Linked DNA regions of Homo sapiens. The gene in region 1 interacts genetically with each later gene. Each region holds a gene or a part of one and is shown in the gene's direction. Other genes may lie near its edges.

Region 1 (4,205 bases):
TGGGGTTTTACATTTAAGTCTTTAATCCATGTTGAGTTTATTTTTGTGTATGGTGTAAGGAAGGAGTCCAGTTTCAATCTTCTTCATGGCTAGCTAGTCATCATTTATTGAGTAGGGAGTCCTTTATTCATTGCTTTTTTTTTTTTGTCAACTTTGTCAACGATCACATGGTTGTAGGTGTGCAGCCTTATTTCTGGGCTCTCTATTCTGTTTCATTGGTCTGTATGTCTGTTTCTGTACTAGTACCATGCTGTTTTGGTTACTGTATCCCTGTAGTTTAAAGTCAGGTAGCATCATGCTTCCAGCTTTGTTCTTTTTGCTTAGGATTGCCTTGGCAATTCAGGCTCTTTTTTGGTTCCATGTGAATTTTTAAATTGTATTTTCTAGTTCTGTGAAGAATCTCATTGGTAGTGTGATAGGAGTAACATTGAATCTATAAAATACTTTGGGCAGTATAGTCATTTTAATGATATTGATTCTTTCTATCCATGAGCATGGAATGTTTTTCCATTTGTTTGTGTCATCTCTGATTTCTTTAAGCAGTGTTTTGTGGTTCTTATTGTAGAGATCTTTCACTTTCCTGGTTTACTGTATTTCTAGGTATTTTATTCTTTTTGTGGCAATTGTGAATTGAATTGCATTCCTGATTTGGTTCTCAGCTTGACTGTTGTTGGCATATTGGAATGCTAATTATTTTTGTACATTGATTTTGTACAACTGAGTCTTCACTGAAGTTGTTTATCAGCTTAAGGGGTTTTGGGTCAAGACTATGGGGTTTTCTAGATATAGGATCATGTCATCTGCAAACAGAGATAGCTGTTTTCCTCTCTTCCTGTTTGGATGTCCATTATTTCTTTCTCTCACCTGATTTATCTGGCCAGGACTTCCAATACTATGTTAAATAGGAGTGTTGAGAGAGGGAATCCTTGTCTTGTGTCAATTTTCAAGGGGAATGTTTTCAACTTTTGCCCATTCAATATGATGTTGGCTGTGGGTTTGCCATAGATGGCTAATATGTTGAGGTTTGTTCTTTAAATACCTAGTTTATTGAGAATTTTAAACATGTTGAATTTTATTGAGAGCCTTTTCTGCATCTATTGAGATGATCATGTGGCTTTTGTCCTTAGTTCTGTTTGTGTGGTGAATCACATTTATTGATTTGCATATGTTGAACCAATCTTGCATCCCAGGGATGAAGCCGACTTGATTGTGGTGGCTTAAGCTTTTTGATGTGCTGCTGGATTCGATTTGCCAGTATTTTGTTGAGGATTTTTATGTCTATGTTCATCAGAGATATTGGCCTGAAGTTTTCTTTTTTTGTTGTATCTCTGCCAAGCTTTGGTATCAGGATGACATTGGCCTCATAGAATGAGTTAAGGAAGAGTCCCTCCTTCTCAATTTTTTTGGAATAGTTTCAGTAGGAATGGTACCAGCTTTTTTTGTACATCTTGTAGAATTTGGCTATGAATCCATCTAGTCTTAGGCTTTGTTTTGGTTGGTAGGCTATTTATTACTGATTCAATTTTGGAGCTCATTATTGGTCTGTTCAGGGATTCAGTTTCTTCCTGAGGTTTTTATTTTTATCAAATGGAACTTAAGCTTTTTCATTTCCAATTTTTTTATGATCTAAAAATGTGCAGTTTACAGCCCTGTTCAGAATCTGCATCTTCCTCATTCTGCAGATACAGGTCCCTCAGAGCAGGTGACTGAGTGTGTATCCTGTCTGGAGCATAATACTTATGCTAGTAGAGTTACTGTTGTCTTTATTGTTAATTACCAAAGTTTACCACTTATCAGTCACTTACTACTTGCTGGGCATTGCACTAAGCATTTCAGTTGTATTATCTTGTTGGGTCCTTACAGCAATCCTGTGAAACAGATACTGCTATTACCCCACTTTATAGAGAGGTAGACTGAGGCTTCCAGCATTGAAGCAAATTGCCCAAGACTACAGAAATGTAGGTTTCTAAACATCAAGAAACAGTAACCAGTAATGATGACTAAAGCAAGGGATTGTGATTGTTCATTCATGATCCCACTGCCTTCTTTTCTTGCTTCATCCTCTCAGGGGTGACTGTTTGGGAGTTGATGACCTTTGGATCCAAGCCATATGACGGAATCCCTGCCAGCGAGATCTCCTCCATCCTGGAGAAAGGAGAACGCCTCCCTCAGCCACCCATATGTACCATCGATGTCTACATGATCATGGTCAAGTGTGAGTGACTGGTGGGTCTGTCCACACTGCCTAGCTGAGCCTTGGTGGCTGCTCTTAGCCAAACAGCTGAGGCCTTTGCATCCCTGGAGAAATGTCATCACATTACTTAAGGCAGGCACACAAATCCAGAAACATCTGTAAATACCCCTTCAAGCATTCTTTTAAAGACACTTCTTGACTCATTGGGCAGTATGACCTGACATTTGCCCATGTTTGCAAGCAAATAAATAAAACTAAAGTCTTCCGCAAGCCATTACACCAAAATATTCTATTCGCTGAGTTACTCAATGAAATACCGAGTTGCCCTATATTTTGAAGCCTGTTACCAGAGAGACTGAATGTTTTTAAATGCATGGCAGTGAGTAACAACATAAGGCTAATAGAGTCAACATTTCTGCTTTGACTTAAACCTTTTAAACCAGTGGATTTATGTGAAGTCTCTGCAGTGTGGCATTTAAACATTTCAATCTAAATAAGAGTGTGTAATTTGATTGATGCTATTATTCTACCAGATTCACGAGTGCAGTGGGCTCTGGAGGTAGCATTACATGCATGGGATGAGCATTTGCAAAAGAAAGTTGTATAGGGAATATGACAGAGCCAAGTTAATGTAAATATTAATGCCTTTCTGAACTCTAGGCCACAGAGTTGATCTTTTTTAACTTCCTTGGTTTGGGCTAAGGAAGCTGTGATCCAGAGAAGCCACGTGATTTGTCTAAGGTCACATAGCAGTCTGGCCTAAAATAGCTTGATATGCTGTGGATGGAAAATAAATGTGATCCCTCAAGAGGCATGAGGATTTCCAGGCAGTAGCCATACCTCCAAATTGTTTAATCTGGATTTAGATTGTTGGGTAGTCACATGCAGCAGCACAGTTAACAGTGTGTCCTCCTGTGGAAGTTGCCAGCACAGCCAGCCCTCTCACTTGCATGCATGCCCACCAGCCTTCTCACTTGCATGCATGCCCACTGGGTATGTGCTGTACTGGAGACGCCGGGGGTAGGGGCCCAGTCCCAACCCCAAATTCTTTAAAGCCTATTTTTCTAAGTTGCATCTGGTTTCCTACCTGAAGGAATGCTAAGGGTGGATGTTGAGTGAGGACCTTGGTGCAGGGCACCCTGCAGTCAGGATAGTTCATGGAGAGCAATTGTACAGACCCACACTGCTCCATCCCCTCAGGCGTAACACAGGATGCTGACCCCAGGAAGAGTGGGCGTAGAAAAACTAGAGGGCATTATTGTTATTCTGATTCAAATGTACAGTGCTGGCATGGTCTTTAAACAGTAACCAGTACTAGCTGGCCAAGACAGAAAAGTCTACCACAAAGACTTGGTTCTTTCATCACTTATTTGACTGGAAGTGTCGCATCACCAATGCCTTCTTTAAGCAATGCCATCTTTATCATTTCTTCCAGTGTTCTAATTGCACTGTTTTTTCTCATTCCTTCCCCAGGCTGGATGATAGACGCAGATAGTCGCCCAAAGTTCCGTGAGTTGATCATCGAATTCTCCAAAATGGCCCGAGACCCCCAGCGCTACCTTGTCATTCAGGTACAAATTGCAGTCTGTGCTTCCATTGGGAAGAGTCCCTCTAATGAGCATCTCATGTCACTGTGTTCTGTCACATGCCAGCCTGGCCTCCCTGTGTCCCAGATCGCATTATTAAACCCTCCAGCGCATTAGAGCAAGCCTCAGTAAGGCGCAGGCCACATCGTGAACTAAGCAGCATCCGTGAGTGGGGCCCACCCAACTCCATCTCCCCCTCCCCGTCTGAACTCTCCTCTGGTGCTCGTCCTCACTGTCCGGCTAGCCAAAGCCTCAGCTGGGTCTAAGAGAGAAGCATGGTCTATTGGGCTTTGGTGTCAGGCAGACGTGGCTTCACACCCCTGACTCTCCACTTCTTCGCATCACCCAGGCAGCCGATCCACCTATCTCCTTCCATAACACAGGAATACCAAAACCAAGCTCACAGGATTGTCTCAAAGATTCAA
Region 2 (3,967 bases), on another chromosome or scaffold:
GTCTTGCTGGAGTGCAGTGGTACAGTCTTGGCTCACTGCAATCTCTGTCTCCTGGGCTCAAGCCATCCTCCCACCTTAGCCTCCCAAGTAGCTAGGACTACAGGCATGTGCCACCATGCCCAGCTAATTTTTGTATTTTTAGTAGAGATGGGGTTTCGCCATGTTGCCCAGGCTGGTCTTGAACTCCTGACCTTAAGTGATTTGCCTGCCTTGGCCTCCCAGAGTGCTGGGATTACAGCCGTGAGCCACTGCATCTGCCCCCATGCCCGTCTTAAAACTGGGAATAACCCCTCTTCCTTTTACTTCTGAGAGTTTTCTTTGATTAAACTGCCTCCTGCATCATTAGTTTTCACATTTCTTTTTTTTGAGATGGAGTCTCGCTCTGTTGCCCGGGCTGGAGTGCAGTGGCGCTGCAAGCTCCGCCTCCTGGGTTCATGCCATTCTCCTGCCTCTGCCTCCCAAGTAGCTGGGACTACAGGCGCCTGCCACCATGCCCGGCTAATTTTTTATATTTTTAGTAGAGATGGGGTTTCACCGTGTTAGCCACGATGGTCTCAATCTCCTGACCTTGTGATCTGCCCGCCTCGGCCTCCCAAAGTGCTGGGATTACAGGCGTGAGCCACCACGCCCGGCCTTCACATTTCTTGTTCAGATTTGCAGCTCTTCACTTAGTGCATGTTTGGTGTACGCAAACTGAGGGTGGTGACTCGATATTTTGCACAGTACCTACTTACTGCTCCTGTAATAAACACAGCATTCAGCCTTGCTAACTACTAACTCCTGCCTAGTTCCAGGATGTCTCATTGGCCTTGCCTAACAGCCACAGGTTTTTTAATTAAATCCAGTGTATTAGTAGATAATGTGAAGTCACAGGTTGTGCCCTTCCTCCTGTTTCCCTCTCAGACCATTCACTGGGGAGTGCAAATAAGGCTGCACAGTAATCCCCCGAAGGGCTTGCTGGGCTCCACCCCCAGTGTTCCTGGTTTAGTAGGTCTAGGGTGGGCCTGAGAATTTGCCTAACAAGTTTCCAGGTGCAGCTGCTGCTGGTAGTTTGGGGACCACACTTGAAGAACCACGGGGCTAGGTAACAGAAGCTTATGCTGTTCTCTCGTCATGTTCCCTGTTCTTCAGGTAGGGAAGACATATGAGCTACTCAACTGTGACAAGCACAAGTCTATATTGTTGAAGAATGGACGGGACCCTGGGGAAGCGCGGCCAGATATCACCCACCAGGTAACTCCAGGGACAGTGCTCACAACCCTTTGAGCCTCTGTATGGAAGGGTTGGCAGCTGAGTGCTGCCTCTCTTCAGCCTTAACCATGTCTCGGTTTCTGCTTTGCTCAGAGTTTGCTGATGCTGATGGATAGTCCCCTGAACCGAGCTGGCTTGCTACAGGTTTATATCCATACACAGAAGAATGTTCTGATTGAAGTGAATCCCCAGACCCGAATTCCCAGAACCTTTGACCGCTTTTGTGGCCTCATGGGTAAGAAGCCTTAGAACAAAGTTAGAATGAACTTGTCAGTAGGGAAGAAGGGAGGAAGAGGAAAAGGGAGAACTAAATGTGGATTTTTAAGCGAGAAAATGGGAGAACAACATGATTAATACCAGGACAAGGACTGTTATTATTTTTCTATGTTTGTGGAAACTCCACTCCTGTTCTTGCAGTAGCTTCCTGGCTGAGTGAAAGAGGGAGTCTGAACCCATCACTGTACAGCTAGCCATATGCTTGGCAACTGTTTGTTCCTAACATTTCAGGAGTCCAGTCTAGATATAAAGCACACAGGGAACTCATCTTATCCATGGGGTTTTCCTTGTTCGATGACTGGACAGAAGGACTGTGGTCTCCATCTAGCTCTGAACTCTTTTTTCCCCCTTCTAGTTCAACTTTTACACAAGCTCAGTGTTCGAGCAGCTGATGGCCCCCAGAAGCTTTTGAAGGTGAGGTATTGAAACCTGTTAGTTGAAGGCTGGTTCTGGGAATGTTTCTGGGGCTGACTTTTCTCTCTTTTTTACTTTAGGTAATTAAGAATCCAGTATCAGATCACTTTCCAGTTGGATGTATGAAAGTTGGCACTTCTTTTTCCATCCCGGTTGTCAGTGATGTGCGTGAGCTGGTGCCCAGCAGTGATCCTATTGTTTTTGTGGTAGGGGCCTTTGCCCATGGCAAGGTAAGGTCTGGGCTCAACCCTGAAATTCTTGGTAGAGCTGAACTTAGTATAGAATTCCCAGAGCAGTAGGCATTTTAACAATGCTTACAATGAGCTAGAAGACACATGACAGTTCCACACCCTGCCCCAGGGCACATCCTTTGAGGGCTGCTGCCATAATTGGAAGTCACAGTTAGGACCTTCTTCATCCTTTGTAGGGATTTGATATTCAACAGCACAGCTGAAATACTAGCTCAGCCATAGTTTTCCTGCCCTAAAGAAGGGCTGAAACAGCTACTGAGTGACAGAGTTGGCTGACAAAACTGTTCTTTTCTTAGGTCAGTGTGGAGTATACAGAGAAGATGGTGTCCATCAGTAACTACCCCCTTTCTGCTGCCCTCACCTGTGCAAAACTTACCACAGCCTTTGAGGAAGTATGGGGGGTCATTTGACAGTAGTAGAACCTGTTCTGAAACCAGAAACTGTTGATGTCACATCCTTTGACCCTGGTCTGAGCTGACTGCTGGAAGATGATCTTTCTGCACTGAGACTGTGGAGTTTGGGGAAGCCAAGGCTGTACATTTGCTATTTGTTTATCCTATGAATACTGTTCTTGCAAACCTGGTTGTTTTGGGGTTCCTAAAGTATCCAGTGGTGTAAAACTGTTTGTTCCCCGGGACTTCAGGGACAGATAGGAGGTTACAGAGTTTGCAGTTTGGTTCCATGCTTTGAAGGCAGGCTTTAGCTCCCAGATTCCCATGTGCTAAAGGAGAGAACCCTGATGATGGAGAAGAACTGTGAAAGAGAGCAGTCAGGAATGCTAGTGGTGAAAAACTGAACAAACAGAAGTGATTTTATCTAATACAGTTCCAAGGTAGAAAAAGTGGAGCAGGCAGGGCCTTGCACCCCTCTCCACCCCCCCATGGGGGGGGTGGTGGTAGCGGCACATACACAATCATAGTAAATTGGCAGAAGAAAAACACAATAGATTCCTGGCTAGATGGGGAGAGATAAGGCAATGTGCATGGGGGAATCAGAGGGGAGATGTGAGCCCCTCTGCTCCTCCCACAAGAGTTTCCCCTTTGGGCCGGGCACGGTGGCTCACGCCTGTAATCCCAGCACTTTGGGAGGCGGAGGCGGGTGGATCACTTGCGGTCAGGAGTTCGAGACCAGCCTGGCCAACGTGGTGAAATCCCGTTTCTACTGAAAATACAAAAATTAGCTGGGCATGGTGGCGTGCCTGTATTCCCAGCTACTTGGGAGGCTGAGGCAGGAAAATCACTTGAACCCAGGAGGTGGAGGTTGCGGTGAGCTGAGATCCCGCCACTGCATTCCAGCGTGGGTGACAAAGCAAGACGCCTTCTCCAAAAAAAAGTTTCCCCTTTGGCCCCAAATGAAGACTTGGCTGGCAGCAGAGGCACAGCTGGAAGCATCGATCTTCCACCTCCCTGGCTTTTCCATTCTCTGCTCTGGGGCAAAGGAGTGCTGTGAAAAGGGAGACGAGTAGTTTCTGCACCAGTCCCGCACAGGCCACCTGCAAGACAAGAGGAGTTTGGAAGGCTGGTTAGTTACTCCTGTAATTCCTGGTCTATAGCCCTTCCAGATGTTTCCTAGCATGCCTCAATAAGTCACAGTAGTCATTGCCCATACTGTGTTCCTTAGTAGCCAGGCTAATCCTTGGAATTCACCCCAGATTTCTAATACTATTGTTTTTTTCCAGTCTGTTGCTCTATTCTGTAACCTGGTGGTAGTTTTAGTTTAGCTGTATTAACTTACCAGGGAAATGGATTATTCCATCTTCTTTAACTTCTCTTTCC
Region 3 (4,205 bases), about 53 Mb from region 1:
TTTGAGCTTGTGGGAAGGAGTACCCAATTTGTGTAAAAGTTGAGCTTTTTATTGCAGCCTTATAAATTCAGATCAGGCTTGTCAGGCTATTTAATTGTATGGTAAGTGCTTTAGAAGTTACCCTAGGATTTGACTAGTTTCCATAGCAGGGTGTCCGGCACTGCAGTGACTGGCAACTGCCTTTTTCCCTTTTTTTTTCTCTTGTTCGTCTCAATTTTAGCATCGTTGAAAATAAAACGGCGATTATTTTTTAAGGCAGTATTTTCAATATTTCCTTTTTTTTTTTGAGACAGAGTCTCATTCTCTTGCTCAGACTGGAGTGCAATGGCTCACCGCAGCCTCTGCCTCCCCGCTTCAAGCGATTTTCCTGCCTCAGCCTCCCAAGTAGCTGGGATTATAAGCATGTGCCACCATGCCTGGCTACTTTTTGTATTTTTAATACAGATGGGGTTTTGCCTTGTTGGCCAGGCTGGTCTCGAACTCCTGGCCTCATGTGATTTGCCTTCCTTGGCTTCCAAAAATGCTGGGATTACAGGCGTGAGCCACCATGCTGGGTCAGTTTTCAATATTTCCGAAAGTGTTTTTTTGAGACGGAGTCTTGCTCTGTCGCTGGAGTGAGCCACCATGCCCAGCCAACTTTTGAGAATAAATACAGTAAAGAATATTTTCGGACATCTGCATATTTAGTATGTTGGAATTATCATTATTATTATTATTTGAGATGGAGTCTCACTCTGTCTCCCAGGCTGGAGTGCAGTGGCATGATCTTGGCTCACTGCAACCTCCATCTCCTGGGTTCAAGCGATTCTCCTGCCCCAGCCTCTCCAGTAGCTGGAATTACAGGCACCCACCACCATGCTTGGATCATTTTTCTCGTATTTTTATTAGGGACAGGTTTCACCATGTTGGCCAGGCTGGTCTTGAACTCCTGGCCTCAGGTAATCTGCCTGCCTCGGCCTCCCAAAATGCTGGGATTACAGGCGTGAGCCACTGAGCCTGGCCGTGTTCTAAATTCTGACACGTGATGCTTTCCAGCAGCCCTGCGAGGCATTTCATCACATCAAGAACAGCTTCACCTACCACTAAGAAAAAAATACTGTTATTTAATCTCAGTGGGGGTGGCAGCTCCCACCTGTAGTCCCTGCTACTTGGGAGGCTGAGGCAGGAGGATTGCTAGAGCCCAGGAGTTCCAGGCTAGCCTGGGCAGCATAACAAGACCCTGTCTCTTTACAAAGAAAAAAAAAAGTTGTTTCAGGAGCTTGTATATTCTCCAGTCTCCTAGTTTAAGTGCCGGTCTCTGCCCTGATAGTGTTTTTCAAAAAGGCTCTTTGTGATATAATTAAGAAATGTGTATTTGGGCTCTGCCTGGCTCTTGGCACTCAGCGTCTAAACCCTTGTAATTTCCAAAGTGGTAAGTGTCTTTTTGTAGACGAGGACTTGATTGATGGCTGGGGCTCCTTGCCAGGGAACCAACCACGTGATTAGAGGGTGGGACCTTTTAGGTCTCCCCCTGCCACCCAGAAGGAAGAGGGCTGAAAGTTGAGTTGATCACCGGTGCTCAGTGATGTCATTAATCACGCCTCTATAATGAGATCTTCATAGAAACCCAAAAGGACCAGGTTCAGGGGCTCCATGCAGCGGAACAGGTGGAGGCTTCTGCAGGGTGGTGGCCTGGAGAGCACAGGGAGGCTCTGCGCTTCTCCTCCATCTGCCTTTTCGTCTATATCCTCTGTAACGTCCGTTATAATAAGCTGGCAAACCTAGCTCTCTGAATTCTGTAAGCTGCTGCAGTAAATTAATGGAACCCAAGAAGCGAGGGATAGTGGGAGCCCTGCTTTGTAGCCTGTCGGTCAGAACCGGAGGTGACAGCCCACTACTTGCGACTGCCATCTGAAATGGGGGCCAGTCTTTGGGGCTGAGCCTTCAGCCTGTGGGATCTGATGCTAATTCCTGGTAGATAGTGTCTGAATTGGATTAAGTTAGAGGACACCCAGCTGGTGGCCCCTGGAGAACTGCTTGATGCGACACCCACGTCCGGTGTCAGGCGTTGTGTTGAGTGTTACGTGAGTAGGAAAGACACTGTCACATCCCTGTCTCCTGCAGTTCAGTTGTTTATCCTTAGAGCTTTTTAACCTAAGGAATATTGGGTAAAGATTGTTCTGAACGAAGGTGCGTGGTGGTGGGCTCTGCAGCGGAGAGAGGTGGGGAAGCTCACCCCAGACGCGCTTCCTCTTTGGGTTTTTTCCCCATCCCCTGTGAATGGCCATCCAGTTCACGGCCTGAAAACATGAAAATCACTGGGAACAGGAGGTGGGAGAAGAGTTACTACTTTCATCCCAGTTCACTCGAGAGAGGGTTCCTCCTTGAATAATTTCTGGTAATTTGTATTCACAGCACAAATGTGCTGTGAATATATTGAGCATTTAAATATTTACTTGTTTGCTAAAATCTTCTGTAAAAAGTCAGTTTTCATTGACATTGGGATGGGATTCTGCCTGCCTAGATGTTGCAACAAACCTTTCAAAATCTAGGCATCTCTGGAAGATCTAATAGTGGATATTCTTGAGATGGTCTTCTTCATTTGCATTGTGCATTGTTAAAAGCTTTTCACTGTTATTCTCCTGTAGTCTTTGGTTATTACCAGAACTTAATTGACCTGTCTTGACTGTTTACATTTCCATCAAAGGGAGAGAGGAGAGTTCCAGTCCCCCCAGCTGTCATGTTTAAAATCTGAAACAAGCTAGGGTTAGGATTTCTTTTGCTCACAGTGAAAGCATTTAGACAATTCATTGTCTCTTCTTGAAGACTTGTTTAGTGTGCTCAGTTAATGTATTAATGTTTTTCTTGGTAAAAATGATCATTTGAAAAATCTCTCTTGTTCAGAATTACTGGGAGATGTACTCAAAGATCGGCCCCAGGAAGCAGATGGAATCGATTCGGTGATTGTAGTGGACAATGTCCCTCAGGTGGGACCCGACCGACTTGAGAAACTCAAAAATGTCATCCACAAGATCTTTTCCAAGTTTGGGAAAATCACAAATGATTTTTATCCTGAAGAGGATGGGAAGACAAAAGGGTGAGTGTTCTCCTGTTGGAGAAGTATCATCTGTGTCTGGCACGTCATGATGAGGGAGTGTTGCAGGAGATCCTTACTAACACAGCTCCTGCCTTGCCCAGGCACGTGGGCCGTTCACTTCTTCAGGCCGCCCTCAGCTGGAAGCTATCCAGAGCAGTGAATGAGAAGATGATAAAGTTTGTTTTTTTAAGTTAAGGTTTTAAAGTTTTTAAAATTATCTAGAATAGGCCAGCATGGTGGCTTATGCATAAACTCCCAACACTCTTGAAGCCTGAGGCCAGGAGTTGGAGGCTGCAGTGAGCTATGATAACGTAGCTGTACTCCAGTCTGGGTGACAGAGCAAGACTCTGTCTCTAAAATAAATAAATAAAGTAAAAACTAACTAGAATAGTTTTAGTTTCTAGAATTATCAAATACAGGTAATGCTGCTGCATTTTCTGTGTTGGGCAGTCAGTTGAAGGATGGCCTCTTGACCCTCAGTTACTCGTGTTATAATGAAACATTCTCTGAGGTTCTTTCTTTCTTTCTTTTTTTTGAGTCGGAGTCTCGCTCTGTCGCCCAGGCTGGAGTGCAGTGTCGCAATCTCGGCTCACTGAAAGCTCCGCCTCCCAGGTTCACACTATTCTCCCGCCTCAGCCTCCCTAGTAGCTGGGACTACTGGCGCCCGCTACCACGCCCGGCTAATTTTTTGTATTTTTAGTAGAGACGGGGTTTCACCATGTTAGCCAGAATGGTCTCGATCTCCTGACCTTGTGATCCACCCGCCTCGGCCTCCCAAAGTGCTGGGATTACAGGCCTGAGCCACCGCGCCCGGCCTCTCTGAGCTTCTTTCTAATCTTGCCTGTAATACACAATATTAGACTACTTTTAAGTTTTTTTTGTTTGTTTGTTTGTTTGAGACAGTCTCACTCTTGCCCAGGCTGGAGTGCAGTGGTGTGATCTCAGCTCACTGCAACCTCCGCCTCCCGGGTTCAAGCAATTCTCCTGCCCCACCCTCCCAAGTAGCCGGGATTACAGGCGCACACTACCACGCCTGGCTTGCTTGCTTGCTTATTTATTTATTTATTTATTTATTGAGACAGAGTCTTGCTCTGTCACCCAGGCTGGAGTGCAGTGGCACGATCTTGGC
Region 4 (4,205 bases), on another chromosome or scaffold:
ATTCTAGTTTTAAGCCTTTGTATAAAGGTTAAAACTTAGTTCCAGCTTTTTCATATCCTCCTTTGAACCTGTTTTTGAAAAGACTAAATACCAGCCAGAAGAAATATCTTAAAAATACATTACCTTTCAGGTGGTGTAAGTCAGTTTGGACAGAAGGCACACTGAAAAATGCTTAAGTATTATTTGTTCTTTATAATTTCTTGTTTAGATTTTAAGACCTTTATCCTAAAGAATGTCACTCCTTTCTTCTTAGTGTACCTCGGTATGATCAACCACCTCCTGTCACATACCAGCCACAGCAAACTGAAAGAAATCAGTCCCTTCTGGTACCTGCAAATCCATATCATACTGCAGAAATTCCTGACTGGCTTCAGGTTTACGCACGAGCCCCTGTGAAGTAAGTACATTTACAACACAAATTTGTTTGAGGAGTGAGTGAAGGGCTGAATGGAGTCTCTGGGCTGCTCGATCCAAGTAGTGTGCCATATTTTACTCTTAATAATATTCGGCTTCTAAGTAATACGTGACTTGAATAAAGGATGTCATAGTTTATAATGTGTGAAAATCATTAATTAGAAATATTAGTTCTTCAGACATTTATAGAATCTTCATTTCTTTGTGTGCGGGCCTCTGCTATTAGGGATACAAGTAAGAAACTTACATTCTCATAGGAGAAGATTAATTTGTAAATAAGTGATACAGTACTTGTGATAAAAGTAAGGACCTGGGCTTGGCACAGTGGCTCACACCTGTAATCCCAGCACTTCGGGAGGCTGAGGCAGGAGGATCTCTTAAGTCCAGGAGTTCGAGACCAGTCTAGGCAACATAACGAGAGCCCCATTTCCACAGAAAAATTTTAAAAATTAGCCAGGCTTTTTGCATGGTCTGTAGTCCCAAGTACTTGGGAGGCTGAGGTGGGAGGATAGCTTGATCTGAGGAGTTCAAGTTCAGCCTGAGCAACATAGCAGGACTCTGTCTCTATAAAAAATTTAAAAATTAGCAGCATGCTGTGGTGTATGCCTGTGATCTCAGCTACTTGGGAGGCTAAGGTGGGAGGACTGCTTGAGCCCAGGAGTTTGAGGCCGCAGTGAGCTATGCTTGTGCCACTGCACTCCAGCCTGGGTGACAGAGCATGAGAGACCCTGACTGCCCCCCTACTAGTGCCAGAAAAAGGAATGATAGCAGATGGCATTTTCTTTCCTATTTTCCTCTTTTCTTTGTCCCTTGATACCACCTGACCTACAGCTGTATGTTTGTATGCTGATTCTAAATAGTACATAATATCTGTATGCGTTTTTATTTTCCTTAAATCTGGAAGAATATGTGCCTAACTGTTAACCTTAGTATTTCTGGGGGTGGATATGGTTGAGGAGAGTTATTCTTTCTGTTGTATGTTATTTCTACTCTATAGTCATGTTTAATAAGAAATAGCATAATCTTTCCTTTTTGGGGGAAGAGATAGTACTTAAATGGAATTCCTGGTTTCTTACAGAAAGAAACAGATTCCTGAAGATTATAGTCTTTTTGAATTCTGTGGTTCTGTGAGCTAACTATAAAACTCAAGGAAACTAGCAAATAGGTTGTAATTCTTCCAAAATGGGCCAGACTGACAAAAAGGGAGCAAGTACTATACTTCTTTACTGCTTAAAAACTTAAACAAGAGGTCTGGAAGCCTGTTGCTTTCTAGTTGATTCTAATTAATGTTGCTGAAGAGGATGGAAATGGTTAATATTCTATCAACAAAGGGTGAGTGGTTATCTATGAATTAGATAATGAGAATCAATTATCACAACAAAAAGAGACATTTTTGCAAAAAAAATTTGCATGTTTCTTCCTTTTGTTTTTCAGACAATTGAGAATCTGAAATTCTTTAATCCTGAAATTCTTTAATCCTATCTCTCACAGTAATTTACCAACACAATTTTTGCATATACTTCTAAAACTTGATTTAGAAACAGACTGTGTTTTAAATTTGTATTTAATTTTTGTAAAGTTATGTTCCTGTGTCTGCTCACAAAAGTCTATAATGCTTGGTATAACTGTACTCAAGCTGAACTATAGGATAAAATTTTAAAAGTTAGGCCGGGTGCGGCGGCTCATGCCTGTAATCCCAGCCCTTTGGGAGGCTGAGGCGAGTGGATCACAAGGTCGAGAGATCGAGACCATCCTGGCTAACACAGTGAAACTCTGTATCTACTAAAAATACAAAAAATTAGCTGGGTATGGTGGCACGCGCCTGTAGTCCCAGCTACTCGGGAGGCTGAGGCAGGAGAATCATTTGAACCCGGGAGGCGGAGGTTGCAGTGAGCCAAGATTGCGCCATTGCACTCCAGCCTGGGTGACAGAGCGAGACTCCATCTCAAAATAAAATATAATAAAATAAAATTTAATCTTTGACAGCAAAAACATTGTCAAGAACATATTTACTTTCTGTTATTTCTCACACACACACCAAAACACTAGTCCTCAGCAGTGTGTGGCAGGGGTATTTTTTATTCCAGTGGCTTGGCAGTCCTGCAGTGTCACCATTGACCCTGCTCTGGATACAGGTGAAAAAGAGGGAGGAGTGGACACAGTGTTATGGCGGGTGGGTGCAGGGGACTTAGGCTACATGGTGATACCTGGAGCTGAGGATAGCAGCACTGTTGATCTTGAAGTCAGCATGCAGTGTGGACAGGTTATTTTTGGTAGCATTATAGCAACTGGCATTTGTATATATGGCTTATTTATAAGTAGTATTTGAATAGAATACTGCCCTAGGAAAAACAGAGTGAAAGAGATGCTAGAAGCATGGACTACTGGAGTGTTTTACACCCAATTTTCGGAATGATTTACCTGTGTATATACAGTATAAATGACTAAAAGTTAAACTTGTGGAAGCAAATTTCTTGGCTAGTTAAGAAGGAAAGAATGGGAGTTTATACTTTTCAGAAAAAGAAGGAACACTTAGGTGATTATAGGCAGAAGGGTAGTAACTATGTAGAAGCAACAGAGGAAAGAATTTGGAATAGGATTTCCATTCCATGCTTTGCAGTTTTTTCACATCTGTGCCCTTCTTGGAGTGCACTTTCTTCCCCCAGAAGGATTTTCTCTAATCTGATTTTGTTGCTTCTACCCATAATCGTACTCTTGATGCTGAATGCTGATTGGCAAGTCAGAAACTTGGCCAGGCATGGTGGTGCACCTGTAATCCAAGCTACTTGAGAGGCAGAGTCAGGATTGTTAGAGCTTAGGAGTTCTGGGCTGTGATGCACTATGCCAGTCGGATGTCTGTACTCTTTGGCATCAGTATGGTGACCTCCCAGGAGCAGGGACCACCAGGTTGCCTAAGGAGGGGCGAACTGGCCCAGGTTGGAAAGGGAGCAGGTTAATACTACTGTGCCGATCAGTAGTGGCATTGTGCTTGTGATTAGCCACTGCACTTCAGCCTGGGAGACATAGGAGATCTTCATCTCTTAAAAAAAAAAAAAAAAAAAAAAAAACTGACAAAATTGTTTGAAGATTTTTTCTTCCTTTAGACAAAACTTGAATACTTATACAGAATGATATTCGTGTCTTAAAAATAAGTATAATATTTACCATCTTATTTTTGTTCTTTGTTTTCCTTGCTAGAAAGTACACAGATGATAGATTAGTTTAACATTGTTGTAGTTCACCTGGTATAAATGGTAACCATCTTGACTTAGTAGACATTGCTGAATTGCCTCTTAGCTAACTCTGGGAGATTAAGATTTTTTGTTAGGAATTATGAATTTGTTTCCAAGGAGCACATAAAATCTTAAGTTACAAGAATGGTGGATGTTCTAAGAAATACCTTATAACTGTTTCTTCATGGAGGCTCATTGAGTATTTCTTACAGTATCACTCTAATTTATGTTCACAAGTGGTTGGAGTTTCCCATTAAAAAGAACAGAGCTTCCTACCAAAGAAATCTAAATCTATTAATAAATTTGCAGCTCTCAAGTAACTGAGTGAAATTGGCAGTCCAATTAAATATATTTACCTTCCAGTTTTTGCATGTTGTATTACTGACATTTCTGTTACACATACTCAAGTTGAATAGAAACATGTCAAAATGCCAAGTATAGTGGCTCACACTAACTGCTCGGTATGTTTTCTATCTCCCTTTTTTAAAATCTCATTTTAAAATATTAGACAGTCCTTTTGAAAGAAAATGGTATAATATCAAAGAACCACTGGGTAGG
Region 5 (4,205 bases), on another chromosome or scaffold:
TGGATTCTATTTTAGAGTTAATATTCTTTTGTTGTTGTTGCTGTTGTTGTTGCTATTTTTAGATAAGGACTAGTTTTTGTAAGATGTTCCTCTTAGCAAATATGATACTGTATCATCTTTGATGATACTTAGTATATGCCAGTGACTATTCACACTCAGTTTTTGACACAATTTATATTCTGGGGAATAATTGGATTGGTTCACACATAATTAGGCTGAAGCTTAATTACAACAATGATCTCTGTAAGTGTGGCCTTTGTAATTTTATCTTTAATCAGGAATAAACCTGACCCTGGTGGAAAAAATGTACAAATAAAAAGTTCCATAATTTTGCATCACAAGTAACTCGTTACTGTTTTAGAAAATTTTCTTCAAGTAATTTTCCTTAATTTTATAATGTAGATTTTAAATTACAATAAAATTGAACTATTGAAGGTGTTTTGAAGTTTTTAAATTAATGCTTAACGTTAATACTTTTTGCTTTAAATTGGAGACTTAAATCCATTTTTAAAGGAAAATGTTAAGCAACCCATAAGTTAAATTGTCAAATATTATCAAAGTTAAAATATTACCAAATAGTTTTTGCAACCAAGTGAGACTATAGAAATTTTCTGACTCCCAGATGTAGATATCAGCTCTTTATAAAGCTAGTTGAGTGGGATTTCTCCTCTGCAAAGCTATTAAGGTTTTGTTAAACCCTAGTAGCTTTATGGGTGCTGTCTAAATGTCTAAGCAGTTTTTCCAAAAATGATTTACACACTTAATATCAGTAAACATATACTTAATGCCAAAATAATTTTGGAAGAGCTGCTCTATTATGGACTTGGGTTTACTTTTATCAGGCTTTTAAACAAATTCAAAGTATGAATGTTTGTTGTGTTCCTCTTTTCTATTTTCAGGTCACGCACGTTGAACCATGGGAGAAAGGAAGCAGGAAAACAGCGGGCCAGACAGGGATGTGCGGAGGGGTAAGTAGAAGTACGTGCATTTTTCAGTTTTTCTGTGTCTAATAACTAAGTTTATATTTAGAGAACTAGAGGCCTGTCAATTATACACTTGAGTGACAATTTTTTTAATCCAAATTCAAGTGTTCAGTGAAATAGGGTTAGAAAAGTGTTACTTTTTAATGCTCCTTAGTTCTGGATTATGGATTGTTATTGATACCTAACAGGATTAATCAATTGGTGTTAAGAGTCCGTTAATTATTTTACTACTTTTTCTTAACTCGTTTCCCCTAAAGGTTCGAGGTGTTGGAACAGGAGGAATTGTTTCTACAGCATTTTGCCTGTTATACAAATTATTTACCCTGAAGTTAACTCGAAAGCAAGTGATGGGTCTTATAACACACACAGACTCTCCATATATTAGAGCGCTTGGATTTATGTATATAAGGTGAGCGTACATTTATGTACATTTCCAGTAAATATCTCATTTTAATTCACATGTGTTTAATAATAGTCTTTTGTAATTCTAGATATACACAGCCCCCTACAGATCTGTGGGACTGGTTTGAATCCTTCCTTGATGATGAAGAGGTATGTCAACAAGGGTAATAATTTGTTTTCTTCTGATTACTCTCATATTTTTATTATCTTTTATTTATTGGTGGTTTAATGTCTTCAAGAACTTCCTGTAGTTAAATTTATTTCAGTGAGATACTTTTGGAATTAATGTCCTTTTACTGAGACCTGATGGCTTTTATGTATTTTAGGGTAAATTTCTGAAGTTTTATTTTCTTGTTTTAAAATTGTTTAAATGTGTTTGGTAACTATTGGAAAATTTTCTCTTCTTAATTATGTTCTGTGTATTGTATTGATCCTGAATTGTATAGTTAATAGTGACTTTTCAAGATGGGGCATGCTCAAGATCGAACAGATAATAAAAGATATGCACATAGAATACTAATTGTAGCTTTTTTTTCTTCTGGAACATTTCAGTTCTTCACCCTCTAGCTTCTTCCAAATATCAGTATTCCCACTTGCATAGAAGTGCAGAATTGAAGAGTTGGGTGTTACATAAATAGGCTAAGTGTTTGGATGACTTGTTCAAGGTGACAAAATTTTAATTCCAGTTTTCTGACTCCTAGTACACCACACACACCTTTAAAAAAGAAATTTTTTAAATTGTAATTCGAGTCTCCCTAATTTGAAATCTGAAATACTAAGTTAGATTTAAATCGTGTATGCATTGGCTGGGCGTGGTGGCTCACATTGTAATCCCAACACTTCGAGAGTTCAAGACCAGCCTGAGCAATATAGTGAGACCTCATCTCTACAAAAAAAAGTTTAAAAATTAGCTGAGCATAGAGGTATGCATCTTAGTCCCACCTACTTGGGAGGCTGGGGTGGGAGGATCACTTGAGCCCAGGAGACAGAATTTGCTGTGAGCCAAGATCATTGCCACTGCATTCCAGCCTGGGTAACACAGTAAGACCCTTTCTCAAAACAAAACAAAATATCATATATGCATTAATTTACTTGCATGGTGAAGTCCAACATGTCAAAAATGAAATGATGAGCTGTATTGTCCCTATGTCTACCCAGTCTACTACTTTGTGTTTTAAGGTTCATAAGACTTTTTGAGTGCTATGTGTCAGTAGTCTATTTACAGAGTTCATCCAAAGAATTTATTGAATTAAAGGATGGTTCTAATGGAAATCTATTGTGTTTTGTTATTACATGCACACCTAAAAAAAAAAAAAATCTCATTTAGACATGGAGAATTTTTATTTTTCTCTTTTTTTTTTTTTTTTTTTTTGCCTGTTAACTGAGTTACTTCACTCAGAAGAAGCAAAACGTGTTTTAAATCACAATCTTTAAGGTCTTTTTATCTTTAGATCAGTTTTTCAGACTGAAGTGCTTCTCCCTTCTGTCTTTAAAAAAGCATGTTCCTCTTCATAATTGGTGTTGTATTGGTTTTGTTTCTGGATGCCTCTATTTTATGTTTTTTATTGTGTTTACAAATCTGAGGTCCTCTATTTAAGCTAACTTATTGTTTTCTTCCTTAGATATCTGCAGCGATTATATTTGGAAATACTGTATATCTGAACACTTAAATGTGTGTGAGTGCAAGCAGTTTTACCTTTAGCTCTTGTTTTCCTGTTTAGATAACAAATCTCACTTTCCTTGTGTGCTTGCACTATAGGTTTGGGACTGACAATAGCTGACTAACATGTCCTGAGCTGTGAGAGGGCATAGCAAGAAGGCCTTCATGCGGTAATGACCCTTTTCAGAGACAATGGTCATCATGGATTATGCGTTTCCAATTATTTGTTCATTTATTTATTTTCTACATAACTAAATTAGAAACCTCACTGCTTCATGGCAGTTGGTTTGCTATTGCTTCCAGTTTTATTAGGGCTTCATTTTATATTAGAGCTGTTAAAAGATAACCTTTAGACAGGAATTATCTAAAGTAGATCATATGTAGCTAGGTTATGGTGCAAGGTATATGATGTGTGCAAATATGTCCACAGAAATAAATACATAGTAGGTATGTGGAATGTAAATTTAAGTCAATCGTTCCGCATAGTTTAGAAATGTAAGGGGCTTTTTCATATTGTTAACTGAGTGAGATCAGTTCCCTTTATGCCTGTGAGGCTGCAGGGTTTGTTCTCACTTGCATGCACACACTAAGCCCAAATATTTCTGTTCATTCATTGTCAGATCAGGATATGAAAATAAAATTTTTCTGTTAGTTTTTTTTGTATTGAGATTCCAAAGATGGTAATATTTTTATAATATTCATGTATATATGGAAATACTTTTTTTGACGGCTAGGGTATCTTTTGTGTTTCTGTAGGACCTAGATGTGAAGGCTGGTGGAGGCTGTGTAATGACCATTGGAGAAATGCTACGATCTTTTCTCACAAAACTGGAGTGGTTTTCTACCTTGTTTCCAAGAATTCCAGTTCCAGTTCAAAAGAATATTGATCAACAGATTAAAACCCGACCTAGAAAAATCAAGAAAGATGGGAAGGAAGGTGCTGAGGAAATAGACAGACATGTTGAACGCAGACGTTCAAGGTAATGTCACTCTTGAATTATGCTTATTTTTCATATATGCTTTATACAAAATTAATGGTTCTGAGAAATAGCAAGTTCTTAGGAATTTGTTTTTACTGTTCATTTTATTAGTTTGTCACTTTTACCCCCCAAAGATTATTTTCTTCCTTTCAGGGCTTTTTCTATAAAATTATGCATCTG
Region 6 (3,538 bases), on another chromosome or scaffold:
GCTGGGATTACAGGCGTGAGCCACCGCGCCTGGCCCTGTGTCCCCTCCTATCCGTCTCCCAGTCAGGGGCCCGGTGCTGTGGCCCCGCTGACCCCTCCCCTGCCTCCTCAGCCCCAGGATGGGTGAGTTCAACGAGAAGAAGACAACATGTGGCACCGTTTGCCTCAAGTACCTGCTGTTTACCTACAATTGCTGCTTCTGGGTGAGGAGGGGTCGCCTTGCCCCCACCCCCACCCCCACCCCTCCCGGGCCACCATCAGACCTGGGCAGATGCGATGACCTTTGTGTACTGCTTGTAGCTGGCTGGCCTGGCTGTCATGGCAGTGGGCATCTGGACGCTGGCCCTCAAGAGTGACTACATCAGCCTGCTGGCCTCAGGCACCTACCTGGCCACAGCCTACATCCTGGTGGTGGCGGGCACTGTCGTCATGGTGACTGGGGTCTTGGGCTGCTGCGCCACCTTCAAGGAGCGTCGGAACCTGCTGCGCCTGGTCAGGAGGGCGCAGGGCCACGGGGTGGGGGTGGTGCAGATGGGCCCAAGGAGGTTGTCGCTGCAGGCTTTGAACCTGTGCCTTGCTGTGCTCACCTGGGGGGGGGGTCACGGTCCTTCCACACCTGCCTAGTCCTGTGGGTCCCCACGTTCCTGCTGGACCAGCTGAGGGAAGACACCAGCTCCGCAAGAAAGCTTCAGGGAGGGTGGCCGCCCCTCAGCCCCCACCTGGAGCCTGGGGAGCCGGGGTGGGGACTCTGCTCTGAGGTGCACTAGGTCTAGGCACTAGGCCTCAGAACAAGGGTGCCCTTGTGCTGCCCCCCCCAGTACTTCATCCTGCTCCTCATCATCTTTCTGCTGGAGATCATCGCTGGTATCCTCGCCTACGCCTACTACCAGCAGGTGAGGGGCCTGGGCAGGCCATTCAGAGACACAGACATGCACAGGCGGGGCGGACACACACACATGCACACGCGTGGCTAGCCCCAACCCCCACCCCCATGGTCCCAGAGCTAACCAATGTGCCACTGGGCCCTGGAGATGGGGTCTAGGTCTCTGCAGGGGCACATGGGGTCAGGCAGGTGTCCAGGGGATCCAGAAGCTCTCTCTGCCTCTGCCGCACTTCATTGTCACCCTGGTGACGGTCCTGGCACCACCCAACCTCCCCTCATGCCGAGGTGTGACCTCAGCCCTTCCCTGTGGCTCTGAGCTGGGCCCCGGGCCTCCCCACCGGCCATCCTGGGGCTCTGCCAGCCCCACCTTGGAAGGTCTTAGACTGAGGCTGAAGTTTCCTGCACCCCAACCCCAGCTGAACACGGAGCTCAAGGAGAACCTGAAGGACACCATGACCAAGCGCTACCACCAGCCGGGCCATGAGGCTGTGACCAGCGCTGTGGACCAGCTGCAGCAGGAGGTGGGTGGGTGGTGCTGGGAGGGCGCGTGCATCCCCAGGGCCTCCCTGGACCTCTGCAGGAGCCTCTGGCCCCAGGTCTCAACCCCAGCCTTGTTCTTGATGCAGTTCCACTGCTGTGGCAGCAACAACTCACAGGACTGGCGAGACAGTGAGTGGATCCGCTCACAGGAGGCCGGTGGCCGTGTGGTCCCAGACAGCTGCTGCAAGACGGTGGTGGCTCTTTGTGGGCAGCGAGACCATGCCTCCAACATCTACAAGGTGGAGGTGGGTGTGCAGCGGGATCATGCCTCCAGTGTCTACGAGGTGGTGGGGGGGCACCCCAGTGACTGGCTGTGGGCAGTGGGACACGCCTCCAATATCTACCAGGAGGTGGGGGGTCACCCCAGTGGCCGGATGTGGGCAGTGAGACCACACCTCCAATATCTACGAGGAAGTGGGTGGGCAGCCCAGTGGCTGGCTGAGCTGTTGGTGGCCTGGCTGCCTAGGTGCTAGGGGTGGGTTTGGCCACACCCTGGAGGCTGGAGGCAGTAGGGGCCAGTGGGAGGTGCCCCCTGGGCCCGCCTTCAACACCCATCCGCGCCCCGCAGGGCGGCTGCATCACCAAGTTGGAGACCTTCATCCAGGAGCACCTGAGGGTCATTGGGGCTGTGGGGATCGGCATTGCCTGTGTGCAGGTGAGGGCACATGGGGGTGGCGGTCATCTTGTTGGGGACACGGGGCAGGGCGGTGGCTGGTGGCCCCATGACGTCTGCTTACGCCCACCCGGCTCTGCACACAGGTCTTTGGCATGATCTTCACGTGCTGCCTGTACAGGAGTCTCAAGCTGGAGCACTACTGACCCTGCCTTGGGCCTTGCTGCTGCTGCACCCAACTACTGAGCTGAGACCACTGAGTACCAGGGGCTGGGCTCCCTGATGACACCCACCCTGTGCCATCACCATAACCTCTGGGGACCCCAACCTCAGAGGCAGCTTCAAGTGCCTTTTGCTGCGCACCAATGCCCAGCAGGGGAGGTGAGGGGGGCTGGCGGGGCGAAGTTTGGGGGGTGTTTTGTGGGGCTCCCCAGACACACTCTCTGCCTGGTGGTCAGATGCAGGTTGGAAGGGGCCTTGCTGAGTGGCGCAAGGCCGAGCGTTCCCAGCAGGGGGAGAAACCCTTCACACCCCAGGCCCTTCAGGAACTGGGGCCTTGCCTTGCAGCCACATGGCCCCATCCCAGTTGGGGAAGCCAGGTGAGCTCTGACCCTTGGGCCTGGGCCTCTGCCCCTCCCAACCCAGCCCTCGTCTCCCTCGACAGCGCCCCTGCTGTCTTCCCCACCGCAGTCACCACCACCCGAAATGCCACGTGGTCACTGTGCACTGCCCTGTTCATGTGCCTCTGCGGGGCAGGGCCTTCCTGGTTTTGTTCACTGCTGTACCCAGATGCCTACAACCATCCCTGCCACATACAGGTGCTCAATAAACACTTGTAGAGCAGATGGACGAGCTCGCTGTGCTGGTAACAGATGGTGGTCTGTTCTCAGGGCCCTCGCATCCAGCAGGGCAGACAGACCCACCCCCGCCCCGCCCAGTGTCAGGACAAAGAAGGGCAGAGCCAGGAGGACACACCCCCCATGGGGCTCCAGGGAAGGGAGGTCTGATGCCAGGGACAGCTGAGCACAGGCCTCAGCAGAAAGAACTGAACATGTTCCTAAATGGTGAGATGGTGTGTTCAGAGCCCCTGGGGGAGAGGAAAAATGGTTTCCAAAACCCTTCTGGCCATGGTGGGGAGCAGACGTGGGAAGGGTGCAGACTGGGGGCCGTGCCCAGGTAAGAGGTGTCAGGCAGGTGGGGTGGGGGCAGTAGGGTGAGGGGGTTTACATGGAGGAGCCTATAGGCCCTGCTGGGGGCCAGAGGGTAGGAGGTACCAGAGCCTGGTGTCTGGCAGAGGTACCCTGGAGATGGGAGCCAGGGCTCGGTCACTGATTGTGCCCCCCACTGCCCAGGTTCCTGTCCTTAAGGCTCAGAACTGTAGACCCTCAGGCAGACCCGTTCTCCCCTACCAGAGGACACCACGCCAGATATCTGGGCAGCAGGGACATCTGACCTGGGGTGCTTGCTGGCAGCACTGCCTGGACAGCAGGGCCTCCTTAGGGC
Region 7 (4,693 bases), on another chromosome or scaffold:
CCTTTGGAAGTGTTGTTAGAAAAGATTTGCAAGAGTCTTACTTTATTCATAAATCGTAACTTTGACTAGTGTTGATGAACCAGTATTGGTCACATTTGCCAATTTGTGGGGAGTTGGCATGGAAAATATGGTGGAAAATTCCGGCTGTGATGTTAAAGGTAACCATTGAACACTTGCACAAACTCAGTTGAAGAAGTTGTGGTCTTGTCAGTTTGAGCTGAGTTCAGGACTGAATCTTGAGGTCCTGAAAAACAACTTAGCCAGCACCTTGTGACCTATACTTCACAGTCAGATGTTACGTATAGTAGCATTGTAGAAACTATGGCCAGGCTATGTGACATTTTAATAGTAAGCAGTACAGTGTCACCAAACAGCTAAAGGTTATAATTAAAAAACTGAGTAGAGAAATTTCAGATACTGGCTACCTAATCATTCATAGCTATTTGGCCACTGTGTTCACTAGATATTCTTTCACCTCTCAATGAAGGTCTCACAATTCACAACATTAAAAGTGATTTTCTGGCCTGACCAAGTGGCTCATGCCTGTAATCCCAGCACTTTTAGAGGCTGATGTGTTGAGGCTTAGCTAGGCTCAGGAGTTCAAGACCAACCTGGCCAACATGGTGAAACCCTGTCTCTACAAAAATTAATACAAAAAACTAGCCAGGCATGGTGTTGCATGCCTATAGTCCCAGCTACTCAAGAGGCTGAGGTGGGAGGATTGCTTGAGCCTGGCAGGTTGAGACTGCAGGGAGCAGTGTTTGTGCGACTGCACTCCAGCCTGGGCGACAGAGCAAGACCCTGTCAAAAAAAAAAAAAAGGCAAAAGACCAGGCACAGCGAGTCACACCTGTAATCCCAGCACTTTGGGAGGCTGAGGCAGGCAGATCATGAGGTCAGGAGATCGAGACCATCCTGGCTAACACGGTGAAACCCCGTCTCTACTAAAAATACAAAAAATTAGCTGGGCGTGGTGACAGGCGCCTATAGTCCCAGCTACTCAGGAGGTTGAGGCAAGAGAATGGGGTGAACCCGGGAGGCGGAGCTTGCAGTGAGCCGAGATCTCGCCACTGCACTCCAGCCTGGGCAACAGAGCGAGACTCCATCTCAAAAAAAAAAAAAAGGTGGCTTTCCTCAGTGAAGTTCCCATGTAACATAGCATAACCCTCCAGGGACTTCCCCAGAAGTTTGTTAGAATTGAGAGCAGAGCTAAGTCTCTGGTTGTCTCCTGATAGCACCAGATAACCCTTTTCTGGGGTCACCTAGGGTCTTGCAATCATTTTGTACCCAGGGCTCAGCCTTTGATGTTTGTAGCCTTTGCTCGAGGCTACTGTTTGAGTGAGCCCAAGTGTTCCAGATGAAACGATACAGGGACAAGTTCACATAATAAGGCTGTTCCCCATCACCACCTCGGCTACCAATCAGCTGGAGCCCTGCAGCTCCCCCTACTATTCCTTTCTCCACTGCTGTAGATTTCCAGGGCTCTGAGAAAAGGAGGAGGACGCAGACTCTGCTCTTCAGATCCACATGCTGATCCCCACTACAATCAGTGACCTGAACTCAGAGTCCAAGTAGGGTAAGAAGGGCTCTGCTGAGGTTGCTCGGGGGACAGCCAGGAACACTGGAAGGAGGCTGATTGAACTTTTAGATAGCAAACAATGGAGAAGGATCCAAATCATGGAAAACAAAGGTCTGAATTCTGGTTAGCCTCAGTCCCACTGATACAGGCTTTTCCCTGCCCCTCCCTTCCTTCACCGCCAGTCCTCCTAAGCACAGTGCATTAAAGCTGCTTGCATCCTACTCTTCTATCTTGTGTAGGCCTTTATCACCAGGACAGGGTTCCACAGATGAGGAACCCTGTGCCTGATGTGGGCATTTGACATCTTTAGAAGTGCTCTCACATGCTTGCATCTCATTAGACTCTTGCAGGTCTGTAGGGAGCTGTGATTAGGCCTATCTGAGGACACCGATACTCAGAGCTATGAATCAGGCTAGAGGTTCAGTAGGGCCAGGAATACTCCTCATGGCAAATGAGGACAGATAGCTGGTAAAGAGATAACTTTTTCAAACGACCATACATCCTATGCTGTGACCACAGTAGCTCTGCGGGGGACTGTTTTAGTTTTGGTGCCTGATTGATTACAGCAACAGTTCTAAACTGATGTCCTTTTATGATGGCATTGTCAATAAGCTCTAACAAATGAAGATCATTTGTAATAGCAGTAATTAGGGAAATGGCCTCTGAGAAGGGATGCCGATAGTTAATAATGATCACATGTTTCACCCAGACTTTGGGGAAAGTGTTATAAGGAAGTCAAGGTTGGAAAAACATCATTTTTCAGAGAAGTGCAATTGCAGCCTGGGCTGTGGTTTCCAGAATCAATGCCTTCTGCCTAGGAACCACCTCCCAAGTAGTTACTCATCTTCTACATTCCCTTAAAATGCAACAATCTTTTCCACTTTGCAGACAATACGCTTAAAATGTCATTTTTCTATTGGACACATGATCTCCTGAGAGCTTATTTGGTAAAAGAGAGCTCGATAGTGATTGGCTCCTCAAATTGGGTAGAAGACAGGGTAGACAGGAGATATTTGAAATTCTCAAAAGGTACTTTATCTATATTTTCCAAATTTGTGTTAGCTCTCACAGGCTAAAGCATATTTTTAGTTCTTAGAAACTGTATTCTTTTTTTTTTTTTTTTTTGAGACGGAGTTTTGCTTTTGTCACCCAGGCCGGAGTGCAGAGGTGTGATGTCGGCTCACCGCAACCTCCGCCTCCCAGGTTCAAGCGATTCTCCTGCCTCAGCCTCTCGAGTAGCTGGGTCTACAGCCACCATGTCCAGCTACTTTTTGTATTTTAGTAGAGATGGGGTTTCACCATGTTGGCCACGGTGTTTCTCGAACTCCTGACCTCAGGTGATACACCCACCTTGGCCTCCCAAACTGCTGGGATTACGGGTATAAGCCACTGTGCCCAGCCCAGAAACTGTATTCTTTAATGAGAATCATCATCTTCTAATATGGAACCAAATAGCAATATAGTGCCCAAGTACCTGCTTGGCAGGGAAAGGAATTTTAAGGTGGAGCTCAGCTCTCTGAGTATAGTCTGGTTAATGCTTTTCTTTCTCTTCCCTGTAGACACGCAGGTGGACGTGGTGACTGAGATGACATCCTCTCTAAAGATTTGGGGCATACTCTTGGCCCTGCTTTGCATCCTTTGCAGGCTGTGTGTATACAGTAACAACATTTACTGGAGAGAATTCATAAAACTTCATTACTTAAGTCCAAGTCGAGAATTCAAAGAGTACAAATGTGATGTCCTCATGAGAGAAAAAGAGGCTCTGAAAGGCAAGAGCTTTCATATGTTCATCTATAGCTTATGGTTCAAAATTCAGCGTGCATGCATCAATGAGAAGGGGAGCGACCGATATAGAAATGCATATGTATGGGCCCCAGGTGCCCTCAAAGTACTCGAGTGTCACTGGGAGAAGTACAACAATAGGTACACAGAGAGCAGAAGCTTCAGCTACATTGAATTCCATTGTGGCGTAGATGGATATGTTGATAACATAGAAGACCTGAGGATTATAGAACCTATCAGCAACTAGAAAGTCTATGCACATCCTCAGATATTGGTAGAGTATTCAGTGCTTCCAAAGTGGTGGGCCCTGCCTCCATCAATAGCCCCTGCCACTCCCCGCTTACATTTATGTGTCAGTGTTTTCCAACTACTTAGAGTTTATGTACCTCGTGATTTCTTGATACCAAATCTTTGTGTGGTTTCTGTATCTGTAATACAATTTTGTCCTAATTTGCCTAATTTACACCCACATTTTTTCCAAGATTCAGCTCATATGGCATCTGTCCTCGACTAACCTAAGACTTTCCTGATATTGACTCTCTTTATACCTACCCAAGCTGAACGACCCTCCTTTTCTTAAATAAAATATATTATTCTAACGTATGTGACGCTTATATATGTTATGTGTGCAGAGTATGTATCGTGTGATTGGTATGGGTATCGGTGATCTAGGCTATTTTTGCCTATGGCTGTGCAAGGGGTTTAATGTGCACTTTATGTGTCTGTGTCTAATGTATGTGATATGTTTATGTATATCATGTGGATATAAATGATTGTGTGCTAAACTGGAGACAAGTAGTGATGTAAGCACTCATCGTGGTAGCAATTTGAAATAATCAAAAGGGTCAAAATCCAGTTTTAAGGAGTGGGCTGGGCACTGTGACTCATGCCCATAATTTCAGCACTTTGGGAGGCTGAAACAGGTGGGTCACCTGAGGTCAGGAGTTTGAGACCAGCCTGGCCAACATGGTAAGGCCCTGTCTCTACTAAAAGTACAAAAATTTGCCAGGCTTGGTGGCACATACCTGTAGTTCTAGCTATGGGAGGCTGAGGCAGGAGAATCTCCTGAACCTGGGAGGCAGAAGTTGCAGTGAGCCGAGATCACGCCACTGCACTCCAGCCTGGATGACAGAGCAAGACTCCGTCTCCATCTCAAAAAAAAAAAAAAAAAAAGAGTTTACTAAAGTGAAAGGCTGGGAATGGACATTCTGTGGCACACAGATTCCAGAGAAATGGGGTCAGTACTCCAAAGTTAAAAGTTAAGTTCTTTTTTATGTAGGAAAAAGAGAAAGAAGTGAGAAAGGATTACATTTTCTATACCAGACTGGTTCAA

The links.
Region 2: changes in EGFR (region 1) and EMG1 together harm fitness more than expected from each alone (negative genetic interaction), as found in Homo sapiens cells (one large-scale study listed by BioGRID).
Region 3: changes in EGFR (region 1) and EIF3B together harm fitness more than expected from each alone (negative genetic interaction), as found in Homo sapiens cells (one large-scale study listed by BioGRID).
Region 4: changes in EGFR (region 1) and SAV1 together harm fitness less than expected from each alone (positive genetic interaction), as found in Homo sapiens cells (one large-scale study listed by BioGRID).
Region 5: changes in EGFR (region 1) and PRPF38B together harm fitness more than expected from each alone (negative genetic interaction), as found in Homo sapiens cells (one large-scale study listed by BioGRID).
Region 6: changes in EGFR (region 1) and CD151 together harm fitness more than expected from each alone (negative genetic interaction), as found in Homo sapiens cells (one large-scale study listed by BioGRID).
Region 7: changes in EGFR (region 1) and EDDM3A together harm fitness less than expected from each alone (positive genetic interaction), as found in Homo sapiens cells (one large-scale study listed by BioGRID).

Annotation. Positions count from the first base shown.
Region 1 is NC_000007.14:55,196,649-55,200,853, forward strand, and holds part of EGFR (epidermal growth factor receptor isoform a precursor), read left to right. Parts: intron 1-2,068; coding exon 2,069-2,215; intron 2,216-3,667; coding exon 3,668-3,765; intron 3,766-4,205. UniProt on the Homo sapiens protein: Receptor tyrosine kinase binding ligands of the EGF family and activating several signaling cascades to convert extracellular cues into appropriate cellular responses.
Region 2 is NC_000012.12:6,973,208-6,977,174, forward strand, and holds part of EMG1 (ribosomal RNA small subunit methyltransferase NEP1), read left to right. Parts: intron 1-1,131; coding exon 1,132-1,233; intron 1,234-1,344; coding exon 1,345-1,486; intron 1,487-1,882; coding exon 1,883-1,941; intron 1,942-2,021; coding exon 2,022-2,171; intron 2,172-2,488; coding exon 2,489-2,602; 3' UTR 2,603-3,938; coding exon of another isoform or gene 3,939-3,967. Other genes in the region: LPCAT3 (lysophospholipid acyltransferase 5), read right to left, coding at 3,939-3,967. UniProt on the Homo sapiens protein: S-adenosyl-L-methionine-dependent pseudouridine N(1)-methyltransferase that methylates pseudouridine at position 1248 (Psi1248) in 18S rRNA.
Region 3 is NC_000007.14:2,357,827-2,362,031, forward strand, and holds part of EIF3B (eukaryotic translation initiation factor 3 subunit B), read left to right. Parts: intron 1-2,883; coding exon 2,884-3,076; intron 3,077-4,205.
Region 4 is NC_000014.9:50,636,942-50,641,146, reverse strand, and holds part of SAV1 (protein salvador homolog 1), read left to right. Parts: intron 1-253; coding exon 254-397; intron 398-4,205. UniProt on the Homo sapiens protein: Regulator of STK3/MST2 and STK4/MST1 in the Hippo signaling pathway which plays a pivotal role in organ size control and tumor suppression by restricting proliferation and promoting apoptosis.
Region 5 is NC_000001.11:108,694,803-108,699,007, forward strand, and holds part of PRPF38B (pre-mRNA-splicing factor 38B), read left to right. Parts: intron 1-899; coding exon 900-968; exon of another isoform or gene 969-978; intron 979-1,240; coding exon 1,241-1,392; intron 1,393-1,474; coding exon 1,475-1,535; coding exon of another isoform or gene 1,536-1,549; intron 1,550-2,758; exon of another isoform or gene 2,759-3,007; coding exon of another isoform or gene 3,008-3,047; exon of another isoform or gene 3,048-3,055; coding exon of another isoform or gene 3,056-3,061; exon of another isoform or gene 3,062-3,215; intron 3,216-3,801; coding exon 3,802-4,025; intron 4,026-4,205. UniProt on the Homo sapiens protein: May be required for pre-mRNA splicing.
Region 6 is NC_000011.10:835,952-839,489, forward strand, and holds the end of CD151 (CD151 antigen), read left to right. Parts: intron 1-111; 5' UTR 112-118; coding exon 119-202; intron 203-299; coding exon 300-491; intron 492-817; coding exon 818-892; intron 893-1,298; coding exon 1,299-1,403; intron 1,404-1,508; coding exon 1,509-1,667; intron 1,668-1,990; coding exon 1,991-2,077; intron 2,078-2,181; coding exon 2,182-2,241; 3' UTR 2,242-2,880; downstream 2,881-3,538. UniProt on the Homo sapiens protein: Structural component of specialized membrane microdomains known as tetraspanin-enriched microdomains (TERMs), which act as platforms for receptor clustering and signaling.
Region 7 is NC_000014.9:20,744,418-20,749,110, forward strand, and holds EDDM3A (epididymal secretory protein E3-alpha precursor), read left to right. Parts: upstream 1-1,469; 5' UTR 1,470-1,575; intron 1,576-3,137; 5' UTR 3,138-3,163; coding exon 3,164-3,607; 3' UTR 3,608-3,963; downstream 3,964-4,693. UniProt on the Homo sapiens protein: Possible function in sperm maturation.